Regions from separate parts of the Homo sapiens genome. Here region 1 is linked to region 2. The links come from fine-mapping of genetic effects on gene expression. Tissue or cell type: skeletal muscle. Region 2 holds a variant in brackets; the other region holds the start of a gene. All regions are shown on one strand. Distances are between the middles of the regions.

Region 1 (8,101 bases), 80 kb before region 2:
TTCAGGTAATATAAAGGTCACCCTTTTAAAGCATACAGTTCAGTGGTTTTATTTTACTGTGTTGTTTTTGAGACAGTCTCGCTCTGTGGCCCAGGCTGGAGTGCAGTGGCAAGATCTCTGCTTACTGCAACCTCCCCCTCCCGAGTTCAAGTGATTCTTCTGCCTCGGCCTCCCAAGTAGCTGGGATTACAGGCATGCACCACCATGCCCGCCTAATTTTCATATTTTTAGTAGAGACAGGGTTTCACCATGTTGGTCAGGCTGGTCTCGAACTCCCGACCTCAGGTGATCCACTCGCCTCGGCCTCCCAAAGTGTTGGGATTACTGGTGTGAGCCACCATGCCTGGCCAGCTTAGTGGTTTTAGTATAGTCAATACAGTTATGCAGCCATCACCACCATCTAATTACAGAACTTTAACATCCACACAAAAAGAAACCTCACACCCTTCCGCAGTCTTGCCCTGTGTCCCTCCCCCAGGCCCTGCAAGCCACGAATCCTCTTTCTATCCTTATGGATTTGCCTGTCCTGGACATTTCATATAAATGGAATTATACTGTATTTTGTGTCTGGCTTCTGTCACTAAGGATGGAATTTTCGAGGTTCATCTGCATTGTAGCCTGTGTCAGAGCTTTATTCCTTTTCATGGCTGAGTAATATTCCACTGTACGGATGGGCCACCTTTCTATAATCCCCGTTTGACTTGTTTTAAGATGTAGTCTTGCTCTGTTGCCCAGGCTGGAGTGCAGTGGCATAATCTCGGCTCTACAACCTCCACCTCCTGGGTTCAAGTGATTCTCCTGCCTCAGCCTCCGGAGTAGTTGGGATTACAGGTGTGCACCACCATGCCTGGCTAATTTTTTTGTATTTTTGGTAGAGACGGTGTTTCACCATGTTGGCCAGGCTGGTCTCGAACTCCTGACCTCAAGTGATCTGCCCTCTTCGGTCTCCCAAAGTGCTGGGATTACAGGCGTGAGCCATGAAGCCCAGTCCCCAACTGCTTTTTTTTTTTTTTGGAGATAGTCTCCATGGCCCAGGCTGGAGTGCAGTGGTGTAATCTCAGCTCACTGCAGCTGCCTCCTCCTGGATTCAAGCAATTCTCGGGCTTCCCCTCTCTAGTAGATGGGACTACAGGCATGCACCACCACACCTGGCCGATTTTTGTACTTTTTGTAGAGATGGGGTTTTTGCCATGTTGGCCAGGCTGGTCTCGAACTCCCGGGCTCAAGTGATCCTCCTGCCTCAGCCTCCCAAAGTGCTGGGATTACAGCCACTGCACCTGGCCTCCCATTTCAATTTGTTAATGCAGCAGACCAACCCATAAGGGGAGGGGCATCTATTGAAGCATTGAACATTTTTGCGCTCCACACCTTGCCTGTCTAGAAAGATTGAGGGAGACCAGTCAGAAATTGAGCATTGGGCCTGCTAACTGGGGGTTCCTTGACGTCTGAAAGCCAAGCCAAGCCTCCTGGTCTTGTTTAGGGGGAGGTCCCCAAGCATTCCCTGCCCCAGTCCTTTGTGAGATTTGCATCTGACTGCAAAGGATGGAAGAAAACCAGGGCAATTAGGTGAGTGTTGCCTAAATTAATCTGCCCATTAAAATATTCTAAAGAGCATTTCCTTCCTTTTTGGAGGATGAGGACTTCTACTTATCTGACAGCAATTCTAGTGTGTTTTTAACATTTTAATATGAAGAGTTTCCAAAACTTGGAAAGAATCGGATTTGGAAAGAATCGGATGGTGAACCCTCAGACCTACCGTCTAGATTCTATGATCATGTTAAGTTTTTCTCATAAGAGATGGCATGAAAACTTTGTCTAAGCAAAATAAAGTGGAGAACCCATTTGGGTTCCTCGGTTAAAAACATTTATATTGTCTGTGAAATCTAAACACCCCCCACTGTCTCAGAGAATATACTTGGAAGTAGAACAAAAAGCCCTATGTATGTGGTACGTGGGGTGGGGACTCTTTCCCTTCATGATTGCACTTTTTTTTTTTTTTGAGACAGGGTCTCATTCTGTTGCCCAGGAGTGCAGTGGTGTGATCATGGCTCACTGCAGCCTCGACCTCCTGGGCTCAAGTGATCCTCCCTCAGCCCCCAGTGTAGCTGGGACCACAGGCATGTGCCCGCACAATCAACTCGGTTTTTATTTTTAGTAGAGAAGAGGTCTCGCTCTGTTGCCCAGGCTGGCCTGAAACTCCTGGGATCAAGTGATCCTCCCACCTTGGCCTCCCAAAGGGCTGGGATTACAGATGTGAGTCACTACACCCAGCCTGGGCAACAGCCTGTTTTTAAATTTTGTTTTTACTTTTTATTTTGAGACGGGGTTTGACTCTGTCACCCAGGCTGGAGTGCAGTGGTGTAATCAACGGCTCACTGCAGCCTCCACTTCCCCGGGCTCAGGTGATCCTTTCGCCTCAGCCCCCGAATAGCTGGGATTATAGGCGCGTGTCACCACGCCCAACTTTTGTAATTTTTTTGGTAGAGACGGAGTCTTGCTATATTGCCCAGCCTGTTCTCAAACTCGTGGGCTCAAGTGATCTGCCCATCTCAGCCTCCCAAAGTGCTGCGATTCCAGGCATGACCTGAAATTAAATCTCAACTCCATGTGGAATATATGAATATGGTCCCATAAGAATTTAAAACACCCAGAGCTTCTTAAATTCTCCTTTGACTTCTCTTTTTACCAGTGTGCAGCTTTCCTTCTCTCCCCAAGGATTAAGTTCGTTTCTTCAGTTTAGGAGTACCTTTTTCTGTGCATTGACAAGCTTGTGTGCTCTTAACCTCATGATACCGGTTTCTGTGTGTGTTTCCATATTTATTTTATTGAGTACAGGATTCTGGACCACTGTCCCTAGCTCAGCGGTTGGGAGATATTTCATGTTTGCAAACAGATCGGCCTTCTCTTTTTTCTTTTCTTTCCTTTTTTGAGACAGAGTCTCACCCTGTTGCCCAGGCTGAAGTGCAGTGATCTCGACTCACTGCAACCTCCGCCTCAGCCTCTGGAGTAGCTGGGATTACAGGCATGCGCCACCATGCCTGGCTAATTTTGTATTTGTTAATAGAGACAGGTTTTTGCCATGTTGGCCAGGCTGGTCTCGAACTCTGGACCTCAGGTGTTCCACCCGACTCGACCTCCCAAAGTGCTGGGATTACAGGTGTGAGTCGCCCGAGCCACAGCACCGGGCCTGGCCTCCTTTTCAATTGCTACATAGTAAGTATTCCAGAGTACTGATTGCTATTAAGTTACTTCTCTAATCCCCCACTGATGGATAGTTAGTGCAAAACATTGGAAACAGTTGCAGACAGCCCTGCCGCCGGCATTCTTGAATTGTGTAAGCTCCAGACCTTTTTTCTGGGTACATCACCTCCAGGAAGAACTGCTGGCTGGGTTATCGGGTGGTGGATGCACTTAGAATGTTATTAGAAAATGTCAAATTGCCCAATTTACACTCCTGCCACTCCAAATGGGGGCATGCCTCACACCCCTGCGTGGTCCAGTACACAATGAATGCTCATTTTGTGAAGTCACAGGGTCAAATCTTTCTCCGTGCCTCATCCCACTTAATCCTTGCAACATTCTCAAGAGGCGGGTAGACGGGGTGTGGCCACTACCATCATATCCATTGCACAGTTGGAAACAGACTCAGCGAGGTTACTTTGCTGGAGGTCAACCACAGTGAGGCATGGGGCCCGGCTTAGCTTTGAATCCAGGTCAGAAAGCACCAAAGCTCATTCTCTCCCATACATTTTAGGGAACTCGGGGAGAGGGACCCTAACTATTCCGAAGGCCTTGCCCCTTGGCAAAGGTTTGTTGATTGTGATGGGAATAGACCTACGGTGGCGGGGTGGAGGCTCTTGCTGCTTTACCCTATGTTCTCGGTTCTCCTCCTTTGCAAAACGGATCGCTATGTCTCCTTGCTTGGCACTTTGCAAATTGGGGAACGCTAAGCCCACATTCCGGCCACGGGTTTCGAACCTCCAGCCTGCACGTTCCCGGCCGGTGCTGATGCTGTGCTGGGTCTCACGTACTCAGCCGCCGCCTGATAACCAGGGCGGGGCCCGGAGCTTGCGGGCAGTGATTGGCACCTGCCCCAGCCTGTCCGCGCCTCGGGCTGGCCCCTCAAGCCAATACTGGCTCCTCTCTGTGCGGTCGTCGGGCGGGCCCTGAGGCTCCCTTGTCAATCCAAGGCCCAGCTGCCGTCGGGTTGGTCGCGGCAGCCTTGGCTGGCGTGCGCCCCCTCCAATGAGAACAGAGCCGGTCAGCGGGCACGTGGGTGGGCGCCGGCGTGTCCCCGCCGGTCTGCCAATGAAGAGGCGAGGCCGGCGTTTGTCCCCGCCCAATCGCGGCGCGCGGTGGGCGGGCCGTGCGGTGTTGATGGGCCCGGCGGAGGGGAGGGGCGGAGCTGTCAGCTCCGGCCAATGGGCGCTCGGGCGTGGATCCGGCAGCCAATGGCAGTCGGGGCGGAGCTGGCGCGCGGCCTTATAAGCCCCCCCGCGAGCGCTTGCGGAGGGCTCGGTCGCCAGCAACCGAGCGGGGCCCGGCCCGAGCGGGGCCTGGGGGTGCGACGCCGAGGGCGGGGGAGAGCGCGCCGCTGCTCCCGGACCGGGCCGCGCACGCCGCCTCAGGTGAGCCCACGGGGAGGCCGCCCGGCCGTGTCCGAGCGCGGACCCCGCCGCCATGGCCGCCCCCGCGTCGCGGCTCGGGGCTGCGGGCGCGCCCGGGACTCGAGGCCCAGGCCTCGGGCGCGGCCTGCTCGGGCCGGGCCTCGCGCTTTGTCCGGGCCGGCGGGGCGGTTGGGGCGTTAACCGCCCGGCCCGGGGGCGCCCGCTGGTTTTCGGGCGGGGGCGGCGGGGCCGGACAATGGCGGGGCGCGCCCAGGGGCGGGAGCGGGGGCCCCTTCCCGGGCCGGGGGCGCGCGGGGGCTGGGCACAGACGGCCCCGGCGCCCCGCACAAAAGATGACAGCGTGGGTGGCCCCGGCCGGGCCCTTTTATCACCCGGGACAAGCCTCGGCCTATTATTATTATTATTTTTGAAAGAAAGCAAGAAAAAGGAAAAAGACCCCAGCCCCTGGGTAACCCCCGCCTGCGTTTCTGGCCCTTTGGGCGCCAGGGGGGCTAAGGGGAAGCCCCCCAGCTGGACACCCAGGGATGCCCCCTAAATGCCTATCATTGCTCCTGCACTGCCCCCACCTCCGGTCAACCTGCTATGCCTTGGTAGCTTCCAAACTTGCCCCCCTGTACGTACCCGAAACCCCCACCCCGCCATAAGCATATGCAATCTGGATTTTAGAAAAAAATCATCTTGCTATGCAACGGCAGCCTCCACGAGTCTCTCCGTCCCTCCCCCTTCCAGCCTGATCGCCATCTCGAACGAAGCCCCTGCTCTAGAGAAATGAATTGAGGAGTTGCTTCCGCCGAGACCCCTTTTCTGTGTCCCCCGTGGACATCCCCCTGGGAGCTGGGGACGGACTCGCTCTGAAATCTGCTTGACCTGGGGTCTGCCAGGGCCCAGGTCTGCGCTCAGTGGTGGCCATGACAATCAGGCAGGACGGGGGACTCTGTCCACCTGGGCACGGTGGAAGGTTTTAAGGGGCATGTTTTCCGCCCCTGGGGGCAGTGGAGGCATGGACTGCTTTTGGGTGCATCCCATCTGTTTGCTTGGGGGAGGATGCTTCTGTTTTAATAATTTACCAGCACCCTGTGAGGAAGTGTTCCCCGAGTTGTGAAACTAGTGAGAAGGTGGTTCAGCTCCGTGGAGCCTAGTGATCCTGTCATATGTGAAGAGCGTCTTTTTCCATGTGTTTCTGGCTGGGGCGTGTATTCAGCAAGTTCCTTTGGGTCCCACCGGGTGCCTGCACTGTCTTGGGATCTCTGGATACTGGACTGAATTCAAGGGATCGGTGCCCTGCCCCAGTCCTCTGCCTCAATGGCCATTTATCAGAATGTCCCCGGGCTGGAGAATGCTCCTAAAAACAGCACCAGTCCTAAAGCAGGCTCATTAGACGACTCCTATGGGCTTTTATCACTGCCGTTATGGGAGCTAATGACTCCCCTAATTCTCCAATAATAGCTTCCTTATGAGCCACCAGGAGGGTTTGTCAACACACGGGGTCAGCCTTCTCCTGCAGCCCCTGCTGAAGCAGTGGGCATCCTCTCTCCGCTTTGCAGTTTATGTTTTGAAACCCTGAAGGTCGGAGCGTAAAGCCGTGGTAGAGTCAACTTCTGTCTGAGCCGAGGATTTCTGGGACTTGCCAGCCTCGTCTCCGTGTGTCTGATTGGACACCTGGCAGGTCCGGGCGCTCCCCCTCCTTGAGCCGGCGACACCAGGACGGGTCAGACTGTCCTGGCCTAGAGGAGGTCACCGCTGGGGAGGAAAAGGGGGTAACGGAGATTCTGCCGCACAGACGGGTGTCTGTGTACAGGCTGTTTTGGTGGAAGCGTCTACTGTGTCAGGAGCTGCGGGTGCCTGCGTGTGCACGTGTGTGTTTAGTTGCTGAGACCTGAAATATATATGTCTTAGTAACAATCCGTTTGCTCGCATTTTCTAACCCTTTCCTCTTTGGGGAGGGGGCTGCTAACAAGATGTTAACTGCTGGCGCTTAAAGGTATAGCTGATCAGCCACCGCACAGCACCCCGCCTGGCCTTTGTTGTACTTTTCTGTCTCGTGGAAGAGACCCTTCCTCAGCCTCCTGCCCTGTCTTCAGTCCCTGTCCCGTCCTGCAGGAGCCCTCTGGGGTGGCCAGGGGCCGTCCTCTGTGTCCTTCTCTCCCACCTGACCACTCTGCCTGTACTTTAATTCCTAATTTCTCTGTCTCCTCTGCTGGTTTCCTGCCCGTTTGTCCTATGCCCCACCCACTCCCTGATGAGCCGGGGAGGAGCCTCAGCTCTGGGGAAGCCATCTGTCCTCGGTTCCATCTGACACCTGTGGGGACGTGCCTTGGGGTCATGCGTTCACCTGGTCTGGGGCTGCTAGGTTTCCAGTGCCGAGTGCCATGCCGGGACAGGTTGGGAGGAGTCCCTGGCTCCTGTGGGTTTAGAGTGTAGTGGGGGAAAGGGTGAGCTGGCTGCCCAGGGCCTGGTCACAGCTGGAATGGTGGTGTGCAGTCCGCTGCCCTCGGGCCCAGCTCAGGGAGCAGGCAGGAGGAGGCGAGGCTGTTGAGGGCCTGAGGTGCATTTGTAGGTGGCTTTGTTCCCTGGATCGGGGAGCGGAATTGGGGGTTCAGAGCTGGGTGACCTTGACCCAGTCACTTGCTCAGTGACAAAGCAGATCGGGGGCACTAAATCTTTCGGAGCCCACTGGGCAGGAGGGGACGGAGAGCAGATGAACAGGGTGGGGGCTCGGGGCGGGGGGAGCTCCGCAGGCCTGCACTGGTCACCGCCATGACAGATCGGCCGTCCTCATCCACAGCCTCACCCTAGGCTCCTGGCTCAGCTCCAGGGACCTGCCATGAGGCAGCTCGATGGGGTCTTCAGATGCCACAGCCCTCCCCCTTCCTGCCCCAGGGGTCTCTGTTCCTGGCTTAGGATGCCGGACAGAAGAGCAGGGGCCCAGCCTGGGCTCCGTTCTCATCTGGTGGTCTTGACGACGTCTCTGGATCTCTGCCCTCTGTCCCATGCCCCACACAGGCTTCAGAGTTGGAGAGACCTGGATTCAGATCCCTCCTCTGAGGCAGTCACTTCCCCTCTCTGGGCCTTGCTTTCTTCTCTGTAAAATGGGTGTAATGGGAACACCTCCCTCCCAGGTGGTTGTGAGGATCAAAGCGGGTAAAAGGCGCTGAAGCTTGCAGGGTGCCAGGAGCTCTGAGTTCGGAGCCGGTTTATTACACAGCAAGGCCCTCTGCCCTGTCAGGGTCTCCCCACCTCTGCCCTATCCACGTTCTGGGCTGGGACATTCTGTGGCGGGGCTGTCCTGGGCACCGTAGGGTGAGTGTGAACAATATCCCTGACCACCACCCACCAGATGCTAGTAGCACCCTGTCCCCTAAGCGGTAGCAACCAAAAATGTCCCCTGGGAAGCACTGTCAACCCCGCAGTGAGAACCTTGGACTTGGCCTTCAGCCCTGCAGTAGCTCATGGTGTGCTGTGACCGTGATGGG
Region 2 (8,101 bases):
TCCCACCACTCTAATGATCCCCTGAGCTCCCCCTCGTCATTCCTCCCTCTCCCCCATCCCTCTCCTGCGCCCCAGGCAACCACTGATGTCTCACTGTCTCCATAGCTCAGCCTTTTCCAGAATGCCGTGAGCTGGAATCCTACAGTCGGTAGCCTTTTCCCATTGGCCTCTTTGACCAAGCAATAGGTGTTCAAGTTTGCTCCATTTTTCATGGCTTGAGAGCTCATTTCTTTTCAGCGCTGAATAATACTCCATGGTCCGGGTGCACCACAGTGTGCCTGCTCATTCACCTATTAAAGGACCCTTCCAAGTTTGGTCAATGTGGGCAGAAGTTTTCATCTCCTTTGGGTAAATACCAAGGAGTACAGTTGCTGGACCACGTGGTGAGAGGACGTTTAGTTTTTTAAGACGCCACCAAACTGTCCTCCCGCCCACCTGTCCCACTGTGTGCTCCTAGCAGCAGCGAATGAACGTTCCCAGGGCCCCGCTTCCCCGCCCCCATCTGGAGTTGTCGGTGTTGTGCATCCTGGCCACCCTGGGAGGCGTGTTGCGCTGTCTCATTGCCATTTCAATCTGCATTCCCCCGATGGCTGCCTTCGCGGCGGGGCCCCTTTGCATGCCTGTTTGCCATCTGTGTGTTTCCTTGGTGAGCTCTCTTCATGTCTTTTGCCCAGTTTGTTGTTGTTGTTGTTGTTGTTTGAGATGGAGTCTCGCTCTGTTGCCCAGGTTGGAGTGCAGTGGCGTGATCTAGGCTCACTGCAACCTCCACTTCCTGGGTTCAATCATTTCTGTGCCTCAGCTTCCCAAGTAGCTGGGATTACATTACAGGCGCCCACCACCACACCCAGCTAATTTTCTTTCTTTTTTTTTTTTTGAGATGGAGTCTTGCTCTGTCACCAGGCTGGAACTACGGTGCCCACCACCACGCCCAGCTAATTTTTGAATTTTTAGTAGCGATGGGGTTTCACCATGTTGGCCAGGATGGTCTCAATCTCTTGACTTCGTGATCTGCCCGCCTTGGCCTCCCAAAGTGCCGGGATTTACAGGCATGAGCCACCATGTCCAGCCTAATTTTTGTATTTTTAGTAGAGACGAGGTGTTGTCATGTTGGCCAGGCTGGTCTCAAGCTCCTGACCTCAGGTGATCCACCTGCCTTGGCCTCCCAAAGTGCTGGGATTACAGGCGTGAGCTACCGCGCCTGGCCATCTTTTTCTGTTTTTTAACCATGCTGTTTGTTTTCTTCTGGTTAAATTTGAGAGTTTGCTGTGTATTTTGGTTATCAGTTGTGACTTGCAAGTATTTTCTTTCTGACTGGGGCTTGTCTTTCTCTTACGGATCCTGCCTGATTGTTTTCAAGTGAAAGTTCAGCCTCAGACTCCAGTGCATGAGAGCCTCTGGGTTGGCTGGCCTGCACTGCCTGCACTTGGCCTGTAGTGATGACCCGGGAGGGACTCTGCAGCCGCACGCAGGCTGTGCCAGCCCAGGCCGACCTGCCACAGGTGCCAGGGGAAGCTTCAGGGCTTCCTTGCCATGTGTTTGCCATGCCTAGCCTATGCACTAGCCTACTTTTACAGCGGGGGAAACAGCCCACAGCAGAGAAGCGACTTGCTGTGGTCCCAGGATGAATTTGCGCCCAGCTCAGCCTGTGCCTGGGGCCTCCCTCTGCCCCATCTGGGTCTCATCACTGCCTCCCTCCTCACCTCTTCTGGGCTCCTGCCAGGGCTCACCTTGCAAAGGAACCGCTGGTCTTGCCAAGTCTGAGGGCCGGTCGTGCAGGTGCAGGAACAGCTGGTGGGGGGTGGATTCAGGCTGTGAGAGCAGCTCACGTTCATGTGTGTCTGGGCTCCTCTCGGCCTCTCAGCAGGCCATGAGCCTCTCCGGGGACTGCAGTGACTAATGTGTATTTTATGAGCTCTTGGGACAGGACGGGGTTTGTTTGCTTGTGGCATTAAGAATAGATGTGCCTGGTGGGTGGGGATTCCGTCCTTGTTTGCCTAGTTCTGAAAACTGTCTTCGTCTCCTCGGTCAGAAGCTGTGGAAGGGCTGTCACTGGGCCTTGGCTCCGGTACCATCGCTGGGTTAGCCCCAAGTGGTGACTGTTTTTCTCCTTCCGTGTCATTGACTTAGAGGCGTGTTAATTATGCACTCCCAAACTGCAGGCTTCACAACAAGGCCTCCACCCAGCAGGAAGCACGCAGCTCAGTGGAATCTGACAGGCCCTGCCTGCCTGGTGCACGCTGGCATGTGCGATGGGGCCCTTCCTGGAAGGGCCAAGCTGGCGGTGAGCCCTTCAGAAAAGGTGTCTGGGCTGGGTATGGCGGCTCATGCCTGCAGCCCCAGCGCTTGGAGGGGCCAAAGTGGGAGGGACCATTGAGCCCAGGAGTTCGAGACCAGCCTGGGCAACAGAGTGAGACTTCATCTCTACACAGAAAAAAGTAAAAATTAGCCAGGTGTGGTTTCTCACGCCTATAGCCTATAGTCCCAGGTACTCAGGAGACTGAGGCTGGAGGATTACCTGAGCCTGGGAGGTTGAGGCTGCAGTGAGCTATGATTCTGCCACTGCACTCCAGCCTGGGCAAGAATCTCACACAGGTTAAGACCAGCCCCTGGTCTGCAGGGTATGACCGGCCCCTGGGGGGGCCGCAGATACTGGGGTGGAGGAGGATGGGCAGCGACCCCTGGGACTCTGGGGAGAATTAGCCTGCACCCCAGGGCTCGCAGGTTCTGGGGGTGGCCGGGCGGTTGCCGACGCTGCTCTGCCGCCCCACAGGACGTGGCCCAGTGGAACATCGGGAGCCTCCGGACCATCCTGGACATGGTGGAGCGCGAGTGCGGCACCATCATCGAGGGCGTGAACACGCCCTACCTGTACTTCGGCATGTGGAAGACCACCTTCGCCTGGCACACCGAGGACATGGACCTGTACAGCATCAACTACCTGCACTTTGGGGAGCCTAAGTCCTGGTGAGTGTCTGCACTGGCCCTGCCGCCGGCCGGACCGAGAGCCCCTCGGGAGGGAGTCAATCCCGGGTACACGGCTGGGCGCCGTGGCAGGGGCCCCACCAGGTGAGGCCGCAAAGGTCGGCCTATGACGGCTGGAGATCTTCCGGACCGCCTGGGGTCACCCACCAGCTTTGGGGTGGGGGATGTGCACCCCCAGAGCCGAAGCTCCCAGGCCCCTAGAGCTTGCGCTTTGTACCCCGGAGTGCCCCCCATTGAGCTGTGAGCGGCCCCAGGTGTCCCCATGGCCAGGAGCGTGGTCTTGAGCCTCCTGAGCTGCCCAGGCTGTGCTGCCTCACAGCCAAGTGGAGACGTTCCTGGTGAAGGGACACTGTCCATGCTGCCCAGAGGGGCCTGGCCAGGATGACCCTGCAGCCGCTCCCTCGCAGTCTCCGCCCTGGCACGTCTGGGCCAGGCCCTACAGTTAGGAGGGCAGGGCGTGGCGCTGCAGGCCTGTGTGCAGTGTGGTGGACCTGCCCCTGCCCGGGAGGTGCCGGGTGCAGCGTGGGCGCTGCTGTGGCGGGCTGAGTTCCAGGACCTTCTCCTGGCTCCCTGTGCACGTCGCAGCGAGGCCGTGTGGGGGTGTGTGTGAATGTGCACGTGTGCGCGCGCATGTGAGTGCGCACGTGAGTGAGTGTGAGTATGCATGCGTGTGTGTGCCCCTGTGTCACCGGGCTCTGCTTGTGACTGCGGAACCTGCTGGGTGCTCCGCGGGGCTGCCCTGCACTGTCCTCCAAGGGCCGCTAGGTGGCGCTCCCGCCCTTCCCGGGGCCGCGCTCATGCCTGGAATCTTCCCAGGCCGTCCTCGCGCTGGAGGAGGACGGAGCCTTTGCCTGGAGGGCGTGGGAGCTCCGCCTTGCCTGGCCCTTCCCTGGGTTGGAGTTGTAAGCGGGGA[GA/G]GGGGGGGGCGGGGGAGAATGCTGTACCTCTTCGTTAAAAAAAAGCACAATGAGCAGGAAGGGGCGAGCTGTGCGCATCCTCACCTGCGTCCGAAGCGCAGATGGAGCCCAAGGGAAAGGCCCTGTAGAGGACCCCGTGTGACTTGGGGCAAAGCGTGGCCTCCCAGGGGTGCGTGGGCAGCGGGACGCCCATGGTGTGACCGGGTTTGTGCCTCCATAGGGACCGTCTGCCCTGTGCAGAGAGCCCCTGTGGGGCGGGAAGTGGCGAGCAGCCGGCAAGGAGGCCCAGCCAGACAGAAGCAGGGGGGTCAGGGACATGGGAGGTGGGGGACCAGCCAGTGAGTCAGACGTGAGGACTTCAGTGCCAAGGACTGCAGTGCCAGCAGCTCGGTCTCCTGTGAGGGGCCCCGGGGGTTGCTGGCTGTCGTGGGAGCCTGGGCTGGGGGAGACCCTGGGGCTGGGGCTGCTATGGGTCAGATGCCAGGGCCGGGGGTGCCTGCTGCTAGGTCAGAGGGGCCTCTGCGGGAGGAGGCGACAGTGGCTCCCTGGAGGCGGCAGTGGGGCCCGGCCACAGGCCGTCGGAGGGACTGACAGGGATGCGCCAGGAGCCGAGGGCCTCTCCTGAGCTGGTTCATCCAGGACGCAGCCTCTGAGGGCATCCCGCACCTCTCCCCGAATGCCCCTCACTGCACCCCTCCTCTGCTTCGCCTGGTGCCGCAGGCGTCCAGCTGCCACTCCCATGTCTACCCTTCCCCATGACCCGTCGTGGGAGATGGCTCAGGGGAGACAGCTGGGGCGGGGCAGCGTTGAGTAGGCAACAGTTCTTTCGGGAAGGGAATTCCGGAAGCGCCCTGACCTTGGTCTTGGTTTTTGCCCAGGAAGGGGTGGGGATGGCAGGGGTGGGGCCTGGCATGAGGGGCCTGAGAGGAGCCACAGTGTAGGCTCTAGCTGCAGGGCATGCCCTCAACCCCCCAGAGCTCCCCACTCGCCCCCACAGTCAGCTCAGCCTGCTTAGCACGCAGGGCCCCTTCCCTGCTCTCTCACCAGGGCTGAGGCGGGGCCCCAGATGTTCCCACGACACCCCATGCCTGCGACAGGCATAGACCAGGTGACCCCAGCATTAGCCAACGTCTACTACGGGCTATCAGTCCTCCCCAGCAGATGGTAGGGGCCCTGGTCACCCCGTGTCCCAGCTCCCAGCAGGGGCCTGGCACAGAGAGGCTTGGTGACTTGCCGGAGCCTCTTGGATCCTCACTGTGTGCTGTGGGAGCTGACTACCCCTCCAGGCTGCCCTCCCAACTTGCAGGGGGGTGGGGACAAGGTAACTGGAAAGAGTGTCTGGCCTCTGGTCCCTGGGCTGGGGTTCAGGAAGCTACTCAGGCCCCTGGGAGATGCTTCCCCCCTCTCCCTTCCTCGGGCCCTTGGGGTAGGTAGGGCTCCCAGCCAAGAGATCACCAAGGCTGCGCCCCGTCTGTCTCCCTCATTACACTGTTCCGCTTGCATCTGCAGCCGCTTAATTGCAACCATTTCAGAGTATTCCAGTGGGATTTTAAAGAAAGTGTCAATGTACTCAGGTTTACAGCATTTTATTAAAGCTTTCTGGGTCTGTTGCTACTTTGGTAGCTTGATTTGTGTGTCAAAGTGACGTGAACAGCCTGGTGTCAATAACAGGCAGAAACATGCTTCAAAAGGCTGGCTTCTGTGGTGCTCTCAGGCAGCGGGGCTAAGAATATCTGAAGAGACTGAGCGCCTCAAAATCTCTTTGGCAATGCGGATTGAAACCAGAGCCAGCACCTGCAACTTCCCCCCGCCAACTTCCCGCAGCCCCTTCTGTCACCCAGGCCGGGGGGGCCGGAGTGCAGGTGGGTGTGGGGAGGGTCCGAGCTTTCCACTTGACCCTGTATTCCAGGGTCTTCCTGGGTGGGGTGGTGGCCTGGGGTCGGTGTCCTGAAGGCTGTGCCCCATAGAAGCCACTGTCCCAGGCCACACTCCTTGCCATAGATCAAGACTCTCCTGGGGCCAGGCGCGGTGGTTTGCGCCTGTAATCCCAGCACTTTGGGAGGCTGAGGCGGTTGGATCATGAGGTCAGGAAATCGAGACCATCTTGGCTAACACGGTGAAACCCCGTCTCTACTAAAAATACAAAAAATGAGCCGGGTGTGGTGGCAGGTGCCTATAATCCCAGCTACTCGGGAGGCTGAGGCAGGAGAATGGTGTGAACCCAGGAGGCGGAGCTTGCAGTGAGCGGAGATCACACCCCTGCACTCCAGCCTGGGCGACAGAGTGAGACTCCGTCTCAAAATAAATAAAAAATAAATAAATAAAAAGACCCTCCTGGAACCTGGGGTGGGGGTGGTTTAGCCGAGCTGACCCTCCAAGGCCGGTCCTGCGGCTGTTCCCCTCCAGGCATCCCCTCCCCAACCTGCACCTGTGGCAGCCCCTGCAGGGCCCACCCTCCTGAGCCGCCCGGGCCAGGCACGAAACACAGGCGTCGCCACGAGGCTGAGCGCAGTGTCGCCAGCAGCATCACATGCCACATGCCCCTAGAAGAGAGTTCCAGGCCGGGGTGGGAGGATGTTGGGTCTCGGCCAGCCCTGAGAGAGTTGCTGGTCCCAGGGCACTTCTGGGTCATTCGGATTGTGCTGTGCACCCCAAAGAAGAGAGTGGAGTGGCCATCCCCCCTCGAGGGCCCTGGCCCACGCTGCCTGGGAAAGTGCCCACTGTTCAGTCCTGTGCACCCATGTGCCGGGCTGGGACCTGGCCGAGGCTTCGGGTCCCCTTTTGCCCCCAACCCATCAGACACCCTGCAGGGCAGTGTTGGGGTGTTTAGGGGACTGTGGGCCACCGCCAAGAGCAGAAGCTTTGGCTCTCACTGCAGCAGGGAAGCCAGATGGGGGATCAGCATGTTCCTGGGGCTGCAGGGACTCCCGAGGACGTCGTGAGCTGATGGGACATGGTCAGCTGCTTGCACTGGCTCCAAGGCGGCGAGAGGAAGGCCCTCCTGAGGAGTGCCGCGGGGCCAGCGCAGGTGCGTGGCAGCCACAGAGGCCTCTGCTCAGGCTTAGGGAAGGGGGTGTCCCCCAGGGTCTCTGCAGCTCCGCTTGTCAGAAGGGGGGTCATCCTGCACCCAGGTGAAGCCCCCAAGAGCAGCGGGGCGAAGGAGCGCTTGCCCGGACTGCGACCTTGACCTGCCCATGACCCGCGGCAGTCTGGAAATCCCCCATTGCCCCAGGCAGGATGGGGGTCCCCCATGGTCTCATCTCTGGCTGTTTCCTCAGGGGATCGCTCCGCCCACCCTCTCCTGCCTCTGTTTACCTTGGACACACTCAGTCTCCGGTGCAGGTGTGGGAGGTGGGGGTCTCGGAGCTTGTGCTCCCGTGAAGGGCACGGAGCCCCCAGTTGCTCTTGGCCATCCTGGGCTGCTATGAGCCAGACCCTCCTGAGTGCTGCGGGGAGGGCTGCTGGGGAGGCCAGGGGAGAGGGGATTATCAGAAGACTCCACCAGCCTCCCTTGACCTTTAAGGAGCTGCAAGCCGAGAATTTTCCCTTTTGATTCAGCTACACCTTGAGTTTTCTCTCTGGCGTTTTCCCTCATGGGAATTTCACAGCATCTTTTCTTCTTGCTGCCAGGGAAACTTGAGTCCTAGCAGGCATAGCCGTCTTTTGCTTCATGGGTGTCCCTGGAGGTGTGCGTGCATGTGTGTGTGTGCATGGGCGCATGTGTGCACCGAGGAACCGTGCTCCAGACACTGGGGGTGGGGGTGGGGAGGGTGGGGGTGGGGAGGGTGGGTTCCAGGGCTGCAGGGGACCAGCCCGGGCTTCCTGCCCTGTGGCCGCAGGTGGGTGGAAGGCAGAGCCTGGGGTGGATGAGTCTGTCGCCCACCCAGGCCAAGCCAGGCTGTTCTTGGGGTGGAGGCTGCGGGCCTGCTCCCTTACCCCTCTGCTGCCCGCCTAACTGCCCCTCAGGACCTCCCTGGCCCACCCGCCTCCCAGCTCCATCTCCTGCTGGCAGCTCCTGCCTGGGGGCAGACACCTCCCTCCCTCCTGGGCTCCCTCAGTCTGGCTGCAGGTGGCACTGTCGGGCCCCACAATGGCCTCTGCCCTGTCCCTTGGAGTGGGACCCAGGAGTCTGGTGGGTGATGGAGCTGGCGAGCCCGTCCCAGGCAGCAGCCTGAAGGCCCATGGGGTAGCGCGCTGGCGCCCGG

Evidence for each region. PIP is the estimated chance that this variant, and not a neighbour inherited with it, causes the effect.
Region 1: it holds the start of KDM4B, and the variant in region 2 is fine-mapped to the expression of KDM4B in skeletal muscle (GTEx, PIP 0.99).

What each region holds. Positions count from the first base shown.
Region 1 is chr19:4,964,603-4,972,703 of GRCh38, forward strand. KDM4B (lysine demethylase 4B) reads left to right here and starts at 4,511. Exons shown (of 23, transcript NM_015015.3): 1 at 4,511-4,628. RefSeq lists silencers at 3,975-4,074, 4,385-4,684 and enhancers at 5,951-6,000, 7,005-7,074.
Region 2 is chr19:5,044,706-5,052,806 of GRCh38, forward strand. KDM4B (lysine demethylase 4B) reads left to right here. Exons shown (of 23, transcript NM_015015.3): 6 at 2,771-2,964. Among named protein-coding and RNA genes, the nearest start is that of KDM4B, 80 kb to the left of the region's middle. RefSeq lists enhancers at 1,909-2,712, 4,206-4,808, 7,299-7,798. The variant GA/G (reference allele first, on the strand shown) is at 3,896.